Homo sapiens: one gene and its partners. The protein of the gene in region 2 interacts with the protein of the main gene of each other region in a pairwise test. Each region holds a gene or a part of one and is shown on either strand. Other genes may lie near its edges. The genes, in order: MIF4GD, CHCHD2 and LHX4.

The links.
Region 1: the proteins of CHCHD2 (region 2) and MIF4GD interact in binary tests that used the Homo sapiens proteins (3 or more experiments, as listed by UniProt).
Region 3: the proteins of CHCHD2 (region 2) and LHX4 interact in binary tests that used the Homo sapiens proteins (3 or more experiments, as listed by UniProt).

What each region holds. Positions count from the first base shown.
Region 1 is NC_000017.11:75,265,657-75,268,384, reverse strand, and holds the end of MIF4GD (MIF4G domain-containing protein), read left to right. Parts: intron 1-192; coding exon 193-302; intron 303-483; coding exon 484-639; intron 640-754; coding exon 755-847; coding exon of another isoform or gene 848-934; intron 935-1,417; coding exon 1,418-1,645; 3' UTR 1,646-2,157; downstream 2,158-2,728. Other genes in the region: MRPS7 (small ribosomal subunit protein uS7m), read right to left, coding at 2,462-2,683. UniProt on the Homo sapiens protein: Functions in replication-dependent translation of histone mRNAs which differ from other eukaryotic mRNAs in that they do not end with a poly-A tail but a stem-loop. May participate in circularizing those mRNAs specifically enhancing their translation.
Region 2 is NC_000007.14:56,104,675-56,108,274, forward strand, and holds the start of CHCHD2 (coiled-coil-helix-coiled-coil-helix domain-containing protein 2 isoform 2 precursor), read right to left. Parts: upstream 1,803-3,600; 5' UTR 1,740-1,802; coding exon 1,690-1,739; intron 1-1,689. UniProt on the Homo sapiens protein: Transcription factor. Binds to the oxygen responsive element of COX4I2 and activates its transcription under hypoxia conditions (4% oxygen), as well as normoxia conditions (20% oxygen).
Region 3 is NC_000001.11:180,228,610-180,232,433, forward strand, and holds the start of LHX4 (LIM/homeobox protein Lhx4), read left to right. Parts: upstream 1-1,654; 5' UTR 1,655-1,920; coding exon 1,921-1,996; intron 1,997-3,824. UniProt on the Homo sapiens protein: May play a critical role in the development of respiratory control mechanisms and in the normal growth and maturation of the lung. Binds preferentially to methylated DNA.

The DNA of each region.
Region 1 (2,728 bases), on a different chromosome or scaffold from region 2:
GCCATGATTTCTTATAAGTACCATGCGCTAACCAATTGCACCACTGGAGCCACTGTCCTCTGTATGATTTCTGATCTCTTTCACTTCAAGCATATGAGTGCTCTACTGTAAATATCTCAAATTCTTAGAAGCGGGTGGACACAAATGTGATAAAGCAGCAGCTCTAGACTCCCCTCCTATCTCTACCCCTAGATCCGGGTGCTGTGGACTTGGAGAAAGTGGCCAATGTGATTGTGGACCATTCTCTGCAGGACTGTGTGTTCAGCAAGGAAGCAGGACGCATGTGCTACGCCATCATTCAGGTTGGGGGTTGGGAGAGGAAAGGAAGCTGCTTTGAGGAAGGTGCTTCAGGAGTGGGCAGAAGGCCTGGCCTGCAGGACAGAGATGCACAGGGTCTAGCTCAAAGAGAGAGAGAGGCATAGGATGGGTGGGGTTACAGGGGCACCGCCCCCCACCCTTCACCTTCCTCTCCCTGGCTCACAGGCAGAGAGTAAACAAGCAGGCCAGAGTGTCTTCCGACGTGGACTCCTCAACCGGCTGCAGCAGGAGTACCAGGCTCGGGAGCAGCTGCGAGCACGCTCCCTGCAGGGCTGGGTCTGCTATGTCACCTTTATCTGCAACATCTTTGACTACCTGAGGGTGAGGCCCCGGCAGCCACCCTGGGAGGCAGACATGGCCTGTTTCCTGAGGCCCAGGTTGGACTGCTCCCCTTGGCCACTAAGCCTGGTGCTCTGACCCCTCCTCTTCCTCACAGGTGAACAACATGCCCATGATGGCCCTGGTGAACCCTGTCTATGACTGCCTCTTCCGGCTGGCCCAGCCAGACAGTTTGAGCAAGGAGGAGGAGGTGGGTGGCCCCAGCCCTGGCACAAGCACAGAAGGCTGCAGGATGGACAGTCCAGCTCAGCCGTGTGTCAGCCCACTGCTCACGGAGGTCTCTGAGGACTGTGTCACTTCTGGGGCAGGACTGTGGGGGTGTTTAAGGCCTGTCAGTTATAGGACAAGCTGCCAGGTCTGGAGTTTATCCAATAGAGAGCAGCCAAAACCTACTGGCTCAGTAGCTTCCTTCTCAGTCAGAAAGCCAACGTATGATGGCAGCTGTGCAAGCCATGGCTAGCTGTGGGTACAGACGGCCCCAAAGCCAAACCAGGGTCAGGCAGTGTGTGGGAGGCAGGAGAGTGGGATGAAGAAGTGGTTTGGAGACAGGCTTGAGTGGAGCCTGGCCAGATGAGGGACCTCAGGCAAGTCCCGGAACTCATTTCTTTCTGTGTAAGATGTGGAAGTACCCACTGGATGGTAAGGAGGGAGCAAGGGAATGAGTGTAAAGGCAAAGCACAGCACCTGGCACTTGGCAAATGCTGTGTGAGAGGCTGGCACTGCCCCAGTTCACTTGTGTTACCCACACTGTCGCCTGCAGGTGGACTGTTTGGTGCTGCAGCTGCACCGGGTTGGGGAGCAGCTGGAGAAAATGAATGGGCAGCGCATGGATGAGCTCTTTGTGCTGATCCGGGATGGCTTCCTGCTCCCAACTGGCCTCAGCTCCCTGGCCCAGCTGCTGCTGCTGGAGATCATTGAGTTCCGGGCGGCCGGCTGGAAGACAACGCCAGCTGCCCACAAGTATTACTACAGCGAAGTCTCCGACTAGGCCTCCAGATCAGGGCTTCCTCACCAGCACTGGCCTTTCTTCTACCCACCTCTAAAGCTGGCAGTGGAGTCTCTGCCTCACCCAAAGACTTTTCCCTTCCAGACTTTGAGTGTCTTCCCTTCTAGACTTTCCCATCTCCTGGTGAGATGTTTCCCACTTATGCCGTGGTCCTGCCCTGAGCCCCTTTCCCCACCACAACCCACCACGGCCAGGCAGAGAAGGGCAACTCCCAAGAGCCACTGCACTGTGTAACCATTAGTGCAACTACTACCTTGGTGCCTCAGTTTACCCATCTGTAAAATGGGTAAGCATAGCCACTGGTGGGATATTTTGGGATGTCAAGGGGTGGAGGCAGAGCACAAGTCACACCAGAAACTGCTTTTTATACATTTTGTATAAGGACAACTCTGGAAACAAGCCTATTTCCTCCAGCCAGTTTCACTGAATGCTGCACCACATGCTACACCAGTTCAGCGTGAGAATTTTCTAATAAATCTTTTCTGATACTAAAACTGCTTCCTTTATATATCCAAAGGTCCGCCCCAACCTAAGGGAAGAGAAAACAGCCCTGAGTTTCCTGGAGGAAATTCCCAAGTCAATGTGCTCCCTCTTTACAAGGAAATAGGGGCAGAGAGAGCAAGTTCCAGCCTCAAAGAAAGAAGGATTAACGGATAGTGAATATGCTGCTACATCTTTCTTACGAGGCCTGCCCACCCTTACAAAGGAACTACATCCTTAACCCACAGGTAGTTTTCAGCGTGGCAGTAGCTCACACTGTTTCTTGCGGCAGAGGGCCCTGGGCTCCTCCTGGAGACTCTACCACCAGCGGTAGTGGGCCAGGGCACGGTTGGCCTCTGCCATCTTGTGCAAGTCATGCTTCCTCTTGATCACGGGGCCCTGGTTATGGAAAGCCTCCAGCAGCTTGTGTGACAGCTTCTCCGGCATCAGTGTCCGCTGGTGCTTTTTATCCCGGCACTCAGTGATCATCCACTTCATGGCTAGGAAGCGGCGACGCCGGTCGGGTAGGGGTACAGGGACCTGGGTGAGACAGGACATAGGCAAGTTGGTCCAAGAGTCTGCCAG
Region 2 (3,600 bases):
TCAGCTCACTGCAACCTCCACCTCCCAGACTCAAGCGATTCTCTTGCCTCAGCCTTCCGAGTAGCTGGGATTACAGGCACCCGCGACCACCTCCGGCTAATTTTTTGTATTTTTAGTTGAGACGAGGTTTCACTATGGTGACCATGGCTGGTCTCCAGCTCCTGACCTCAGGTGATCCACCCGCCTCGGACTCCCAAAGTGCTGGGATTACAGGTGTGAACCACCACGCACGGCCTAATTTTTTTTTTTTTTTTGAGACAGGGCCTCACTCTGATGCCCAGACTGGAGTGCAGTGTCACGATCCAATCTCACTGCAACCTCTGCCTCCTGGGTTCAACCGATTCTTCTGCCTCCGCTTCCCAAGTAGCTGGGATTACAGGCGCGCACCACCACACCTAGCTAATTTTTGTATTTCTAGTAGAGACGGAGTTTCACCATGTTGGCCAGGCTCGTCTCGAACTCCTGACCTCAAGTGATCCACCCGCCTCGACCTCCCAAAGTGTTGGGATTACAGGCATGAGCCACCACGCCCGGCCACTTTAATCTTTTCTTATAATAGTAATAGCCTAGGACATACTAGTTTTTTCTGCTTCTTTGCAACAATTTCCATGTATTCGGATAGCCCACAGTATCTTTAAAGACATATCCAACATGTCATAAGAAATACAGACTACTAAAAGTTAGAAAGATTCTTACAGGATTCATTCATTCAAGTATTAGGTAACTACAAGGCGCTGGTAATGTAACTGTGAACAAGAGACAAAAATCTCTGCATTCATGGAGTTTACATTTTATTGACGGATCAAATAATTAACATAGGCTGCGGAGTGGTGGCTCTTGCCTGTAATCCCAGTGATTAGGGAAGTGGAGGCGAAAGGATCATTTGAGGCCAGGACTTTGAGACCAGCCAGGGCCACATAATGAGACCCTGTCTCTGCTAAAATATAAAATAGAATAAAGTCGCCAAGTGTGGTGCACAGGTGGCGCATGCCTGTAGTCCCAGTTACTCTGGAGGCTGACGTGGTAGAATAGCTTGAGCCCAGGAAGTCAAGGCTGCAGTTAGCCATAATTACGTCACTGCACTACAGCCTGAGTTAGACTCTGACTCAAAATATAAATAAATAAACATTCTAATTAGGACTTAAAGATGGTCAACTGGGGAAATAATCTAGTCCAATTCCTTCATTTTACACATTACAAAACAAGACTGGCCAAAGTGACTCGTCTGAACTATTATACCAAAAGCAACTTCAACTATTCCTCATCTGTTCAACGTTCAGATGCTTTCAACAATTTCGAGACCCCTTCTCAAATAACAAAAGACTAATTATGTCCTGCACGTATTTAAAAATCTTCATATGTATCACGCTCCCTCTGACCATTTCCGGATTATTTCCTTGGGTGCTCTTTTCCCCGAAATCAAGCTAGGTCAAAATTTATGCCTTCCTACCACCTGGCCATAACGTTATGCCTTTCCCGTTGTTTGGATAGGAAGCTTTTTCCGTAAGTGAATTCCCTCCCCACACTCCCCTAACATAGGCTTTACGTTCAATCTACCCCCGCCTGGCAGAGGCGAGCCCACGCCGCAGCCGACCTTAGTTCACCCCCGCCCGCGGCCTCCCTCTGCGTCATTGCCCCAGTAGAGTCCGGACGGCCGCGCTTTGGTCTCAAACCCTGCGATGGTCTCACCTGGCCGGAGGGGCCATGCGGGAGGTGCGGCTTCGGCTTCCACGCGGCATCCTAGGTAAGCGACGGCTAGGCCTCCGGACGTGGGACAACCACCGAAGAGCTAAGCGACTTCTGAGGAGACCGGAAGATGGGAGGCGGGGCTGGCCTCAACGCGCAACCAACCAGCACACAGGCAGAGAACTTCCGTTCTCCGTCGTCTCCGCAGGCCTGAAGTTCATTGGAAGAGCAGGACGTCACGGGGACGCCTCGTCCTTCGCGGTCAACGCCCTGAACTTGGCGCCAGGATCTTTAAAACCCGGAAGTTCCTGTGGTTCATCCGCGAACCTTGTCCTCCGGTCCTCGCATCAGAGCACTTAGCATTTTGCTTCCCTAGGGCAGCTGGCCTGTCGCTCCGTCCTTCAAACATTTGTATTAAATCCAACCTTAAGAGTGACTCACATCTCTGGCTGGATTGCCAGGGGACCTTGGGCAGATTTCTTAGCCTTTCTGAGCATTCAGTTATAAGGGCAAATATTTTTGGAGGCACAGTGTGGACGCGTAGTATGAACTGAATGAAAGAAATCGGTTTCGTCAAAAATAAACAGAGTTGAATTAGTTGTATTTGGTATTTCTCTTTCTTGTCTGTGGATCCAGTCAGCAAAAGTTAAATTCAGGCAGCAATAATGTTTTACATTTATGTATTACTATATATTTTCAGCTCCTTTTCATATGTATTATAGAATTTGTGTCCAGAATTGGGACAGTAACCATACACTGGTAAATTCAACAAAAATTTACTGTCTAACTGGGTTATGGAGATACTGCACCAAATCAGATAAGATTCTACCTTCACGAAGTTAAGTTTCAAGGAGGGGAGACACAAACGCCTACGTAAATCAGGTGGTGGTGACATGAAAAGAGAGGAAGGAGACTGGAAATTAGAGGTTAGGCGGGGCGGGGGGGAGTCATTTGAACGGAGCCCTTGAAGAGGTGGGGAAGCAAGCCATGTGTTTATGAAGATAAGAACACTACAGGAAGAGAGAACAGCAATTGCAAAGGCCCCAAGGATCTGTGCTTTAGTGATACTTGGTGTGAAATGCTTTTTTTTTTTTTTTGAGACGGAGTCTGGCTCTGTCGCCCAGGCTGGAGTGCAGTGGCGCGTTCTCAGCTCACTGCAGCCTCCGCCTCCCGGATTCAAGCGATTCTCCTGCCTCAGCCTTCCGAGTAGTTGGGATTACAGGCGCACGTCAACCCGCCTGGCTAATTTTTTATTTTAGTAGAAACAGGGTTTCGCCATGTTGGTCAGGCTGGTCTTGAGCTCTTGACCTCAGGTGATCCATCTACCTCGGCCTGCAAGGGCTGGGATTACAGGCATAAGCCACCAGGCCCAGCCTGAAATGCTTTCAACAGTTACATTAAACATCGCTAAAATAAGGGGAAATTTGGCTAGTGGCATTTCATAAGGGGCTCATGGGAAAGTCCCTTGCGGTTGGAGTGAGGTTTATTGAGGAGAGGAAGCACACATGGAACCATTTCTGCTTGATGTCAATCAGAAATTTCTCCCTTCCATCAGAGGAAGTAGAGTTTAAAACAGCCTTCCTGTGTCCCAGCAACAGCAGAATGTACTTGGAACTAAAGGGTGAATAATGTGGCAGCTAAGCTATGAGGATGCAAAGGCAAAAGAATGATATAATGGGCTCTGGGGATTTGGAGGGATGTGCTAGGTGGGTAAGGGATAAAAGACTACACTGTTGAGTACGGTGTACATTGCTCAGGTGATGGGTGCATCAAAACCTCAGAAATCACCACTAAAGAACTTTTCCATGTAACCAAACACCACCTGTTCCCCCAAAAGTATTGAAATAAAAAGATTTCAAACAATAAAAAGGGTGAATTATATAAAAATCTTTTGTAAAAAACAAAGCTTTATTT
Region 3 (3,824 bases), on a different chromosome or scaffold from region 2:
TTTTTTCTTCTTGTGTATATTGTCTCGCGCGCGGAGTCACCTCGCAGGTAAACAAGGGAAGAGATGATGCCAACCCAGTACCAGGACACACAAAAGTCACTGTGACCTCATTGGAGACAAATTCTAAGCAGCGCAGACGACCAGGCCATTCTCCCCCGCCCCATGCTCCTCCCTTAAAGGTGAGCAGGTGTCCCTTGTTTGGAGATGACACCAGGGGAAACAGCAGGGAAGGTTCTGGAAGGCTGGGGAGGGCACACAGTCCCCCTTCCCGCCTAAGCTGAACCCCACTAGGCTGGAAGGACACGTATGTCTGCATTTCTGGAAGGAAATGCCGTGGGGGCTGGGGGCAGGAGAGCGGCTGGGTCTTGGGGCAGACGGGGTGGGCTTCCCGCGCCTGCAGCCCGGAGGCGTCGAGCGCCTGATGGAGCGTCAGAGGAGACCTCGTCCCAGCGTTGGGCCTTCTGTTGTATTTCTGCCAGAAACTCGCGTTGAGGAGAATTTGTTTTAAGCGTTTCTCTACCTGTCCATGCATCTCGTAAATACAGTAAGCATGGCAAGCCCTTTCGCTGGTTAACCCCGGCGTCCGTGTGCTCACTGCCGCCCTGCACGCACGAGGTCGCGGATGGTTCAAAGCACCCGCGGTGGCAGCCGGAGAGGCAGAGCGGGCTCTAGGGACCTAAGACAGGGCCGAGCTGGACGACTGGTGGCAGGGCGGCCGGGGAGGCCCCGCCGCGGGGAGGTTTGGGCCCCCTACCCTGCGGAACTGGAGGCAAGTGCGGACTCCGGCTGCAGGCCGCGGTCTGCGGGGACGCGCGCGGGGGGCCTGCGTCCCGCCACCTCCGCGCACAGCCCCTGGTCCCCTTCCCCAGCCCGGGCCGGCGCCGCCCGCCGCGTGACTCGCGCGTTCCGGGCCGAGTACGGGCTGTCCCTTGGCCCAGCCTCAGCCAGACGCGGGGGAGAGAGAGCAGGGGCTGGGAAGTGCCGGCAGGAAAGGAATTGGCCAGGGGAAAGAGGAGGAGGAAGATAGATGGAGTCATCGGTTACGGAGCGCGCTCCGTCCGGCGGAGCGAAGCCGGGGACCGAGAGCGCGCAAGGCGAAGACACAGCGACGCAGCCCCGTCCCCGGCCTCCGGACCGCCTGCCCCGCTCGGCCCCGGCTCGGCTCCGCCCCGCCCCTGGGTCCGAACGGAGGAGTGAGGAGGACACGAGCCGCGCGGGCTTGGAACCCACGAAGACCCGCAAACCCAGGGCGCCGCCGTCTCCGACCACCTGCTGCCGCGGCAGGCCATCAGCAGAATTTATACCCAGGGCGCGAGCCCGCCACGGCTGGGCGGAGGCGGAGGCGGAGGCGGGGAGGGGGGGGGGGTGCCGGCTTGCGAGGCCCCGCCCCGCTCCCTGCCGCCCCGCCCCCCTCCGCCCCGCCGGCCTCACTCGGGGCGCCGGGACCCCCACTCCCTCCGGGGTCGGCTGCCCGCCGCCGGGTTGGGGGATGTGCCGAAGGGCGGGCCTCCCTGCGGAAAGCGACGTCACGGCCGCTCCTGCAGTGTGAATGAATCAAAACGCCCGGGTGACCGCGGCCTCCCGGGCGGCCGGCACGCGAAGGGTGGAGGGGGAGGGGGAAGGAGCGGGCGGGGGAGGGAAGAGGAAAAAAGCCAGAGCTGCAGCAACAGCGTCTCAACCTGGGATGTGCACCAACCCCGGAGAGCGAGATCAAAGGGACTGGAAACAGACTGGGGACTGGCGGGGGGAGGGGGCCGGCCAGCCTGTGGAGTCCTCCCTGAGAAGCGGAGGGCCCGGCTTCCACCGTGACTCCAGCGGCCTGCTTGGGGTTTTAATTATTATTTTGAAATTTCTGAATCGAGCTAGAGCGAGAGAGCGAGAGATCTCCGTAGACTGCGACTCGCTGGCTTTCGCTCCGAGATGATGCAGAGTGCGACTGTCCCCGCGGAAGGGGCTGTCAAGGGGCTCCCGGAGATGCTAGGTGTGCCGATGCAACGTAAGACACCCCCCTTTCTCGCTGATTTAATTCTAACAAGACAGCTAGCAGCCTCAGCCGCTGCGGGGCGGGCCGGACGCCGCTCAGGGGCCGGGAGGGGCTGGCGGCCGGGGCGCAGAGGCGGTCACAGGGCAGGGGCACCAGCCAGAGTGCGTTTGAGGGGGCCAGGCTCTTGGCTGTTTGGGGCCGAATGTGAACGCCTCCTGGATCATGCTTGAGGCGAGCCGAGTACCGAACCCCGCATCTCCAGCCCAAGGCTTTTCTTGGAACGCTGGGGAGAGTGCTGTTTGGGGACACCCAGGGGTACGAGCTGTAGGCCAGGCCTGAGGGCGAGGGTGGTCCCCACAAATCTTCTTTCGCCGGCGTGACGGTCAGCGCTTGCAGGACCGCTAGTGCAACTTCACCCCAGCTGGCGGGAAGTTGGAGAGCGCGTCTCTCGCCCCTGGGGCTGGCGGCGGAGAAGCCCCGGCCACACTCTTAGTCCCTGCGGCCCGCGCCCCGGGCGTGCGTGCCGGGTGAGTCCCCAGCCGCTACTGCCCGCGGCGCCCGCCGCGTGCGCCGCGGGAAACTGACTGCTCCTTGTGAGGGAATCTGCTCGCGCATTCCAGCTAGCCTAGGAATGCAGGGGAGGGAGAAGCGACCGCAAGTTGTGAATTCCGGGTTCAGCCTTTGCGCACGCGAGGGCAGGTGCTCAGGGTGGCTCGGGTTTGGAGGGGTAGAGACGGGGGTGTGTGGGAGCTTTGCTAGCCTGCCCGCCCGCTTTCTTCCCGCGCCCGAAATTAGCGAGACAGCCGGAGCTCGCGGCGTGTTTATCCCCAAGTCTCTCTCTGTGTGTATGGGTGTGCGCGCGCAGAGATTTTCCCGAAGGGAATCCGTCTCTGTGCTTCACTCCTGAGCGAGAGTCCCCGAGAGGGAATCTGTGCAGAGGCCAGAACAGGTGCCCAGTCGTCGCGCGCGCGCGCGCGCGCGCGCGACAAGCGCCGGGAGAGTCCTGCCCCTGTGGCTTGCACGCTCAGCAGGGCGCCCCGGGCACCCTGGAGAGACCAAGGAGTTCCTCGCTCCGCTTGCCAAGGGGTTGTACTTCCGCCTGCGACTTCTTTAGTGGTGCGGTAGCTACATCTTCGGGGTTTACTTTAAGTAAGGGCCGGCTCATCCAGGGATGGTGACTACCTACAAACTAGGGCGCACGAGCGCGCCCTCCTGCGCCTCGGGTTTCCATGGCAGGGTTTCTGTCCGGCGATCCTTCGGAGGGCAGGCGTACCGTAGGCTTCCCTGGGAAGTTTTTGAGAAGGGACTAGAAAAGAATAGCTTCATCCAAGCCTATTTAGATTGTTTCTTGGCTGTATTCTACAGTTATTCTTTGAGTGTTTTCGTGTCAACTGCCGGCAATCAGTTCCACGTCTGTGTTGAGCCTTGGGGAGTTTACCGCTAAGATGTTTTCATAGAAGGCATTGGAGATTCACTACGCCCCACACCCCGCACACAGGCAGGGACAGAGTGGGTTCTCAGCCCCTGCAAAGACGGAAACAGAAACCCTGCAAAGGTGCACCGAGTCCTTAAGCTGCTTGTAGCTCTGCGCGAGTGAGGAGACTGCATGAGTGGGGGAAGGGTGTGTGTGTGTTACTAGTGTCCTTGGTACCCAGTACGTCTGTGCTTTCATGGCTGTGGTCCGTAGGTGACCTGTCTGTTGGGACCCCAATGAAGGACGATGGTCTCTGCTCTGACGGCCTTTCTTGTGATGAGTGACACTCTGATTGTCTCACTTTTTGCCTTCCCTGTTCAGAGACAACTTTGATGTTCGACGTCAGGGAGTCGCTTTGCTAAAATG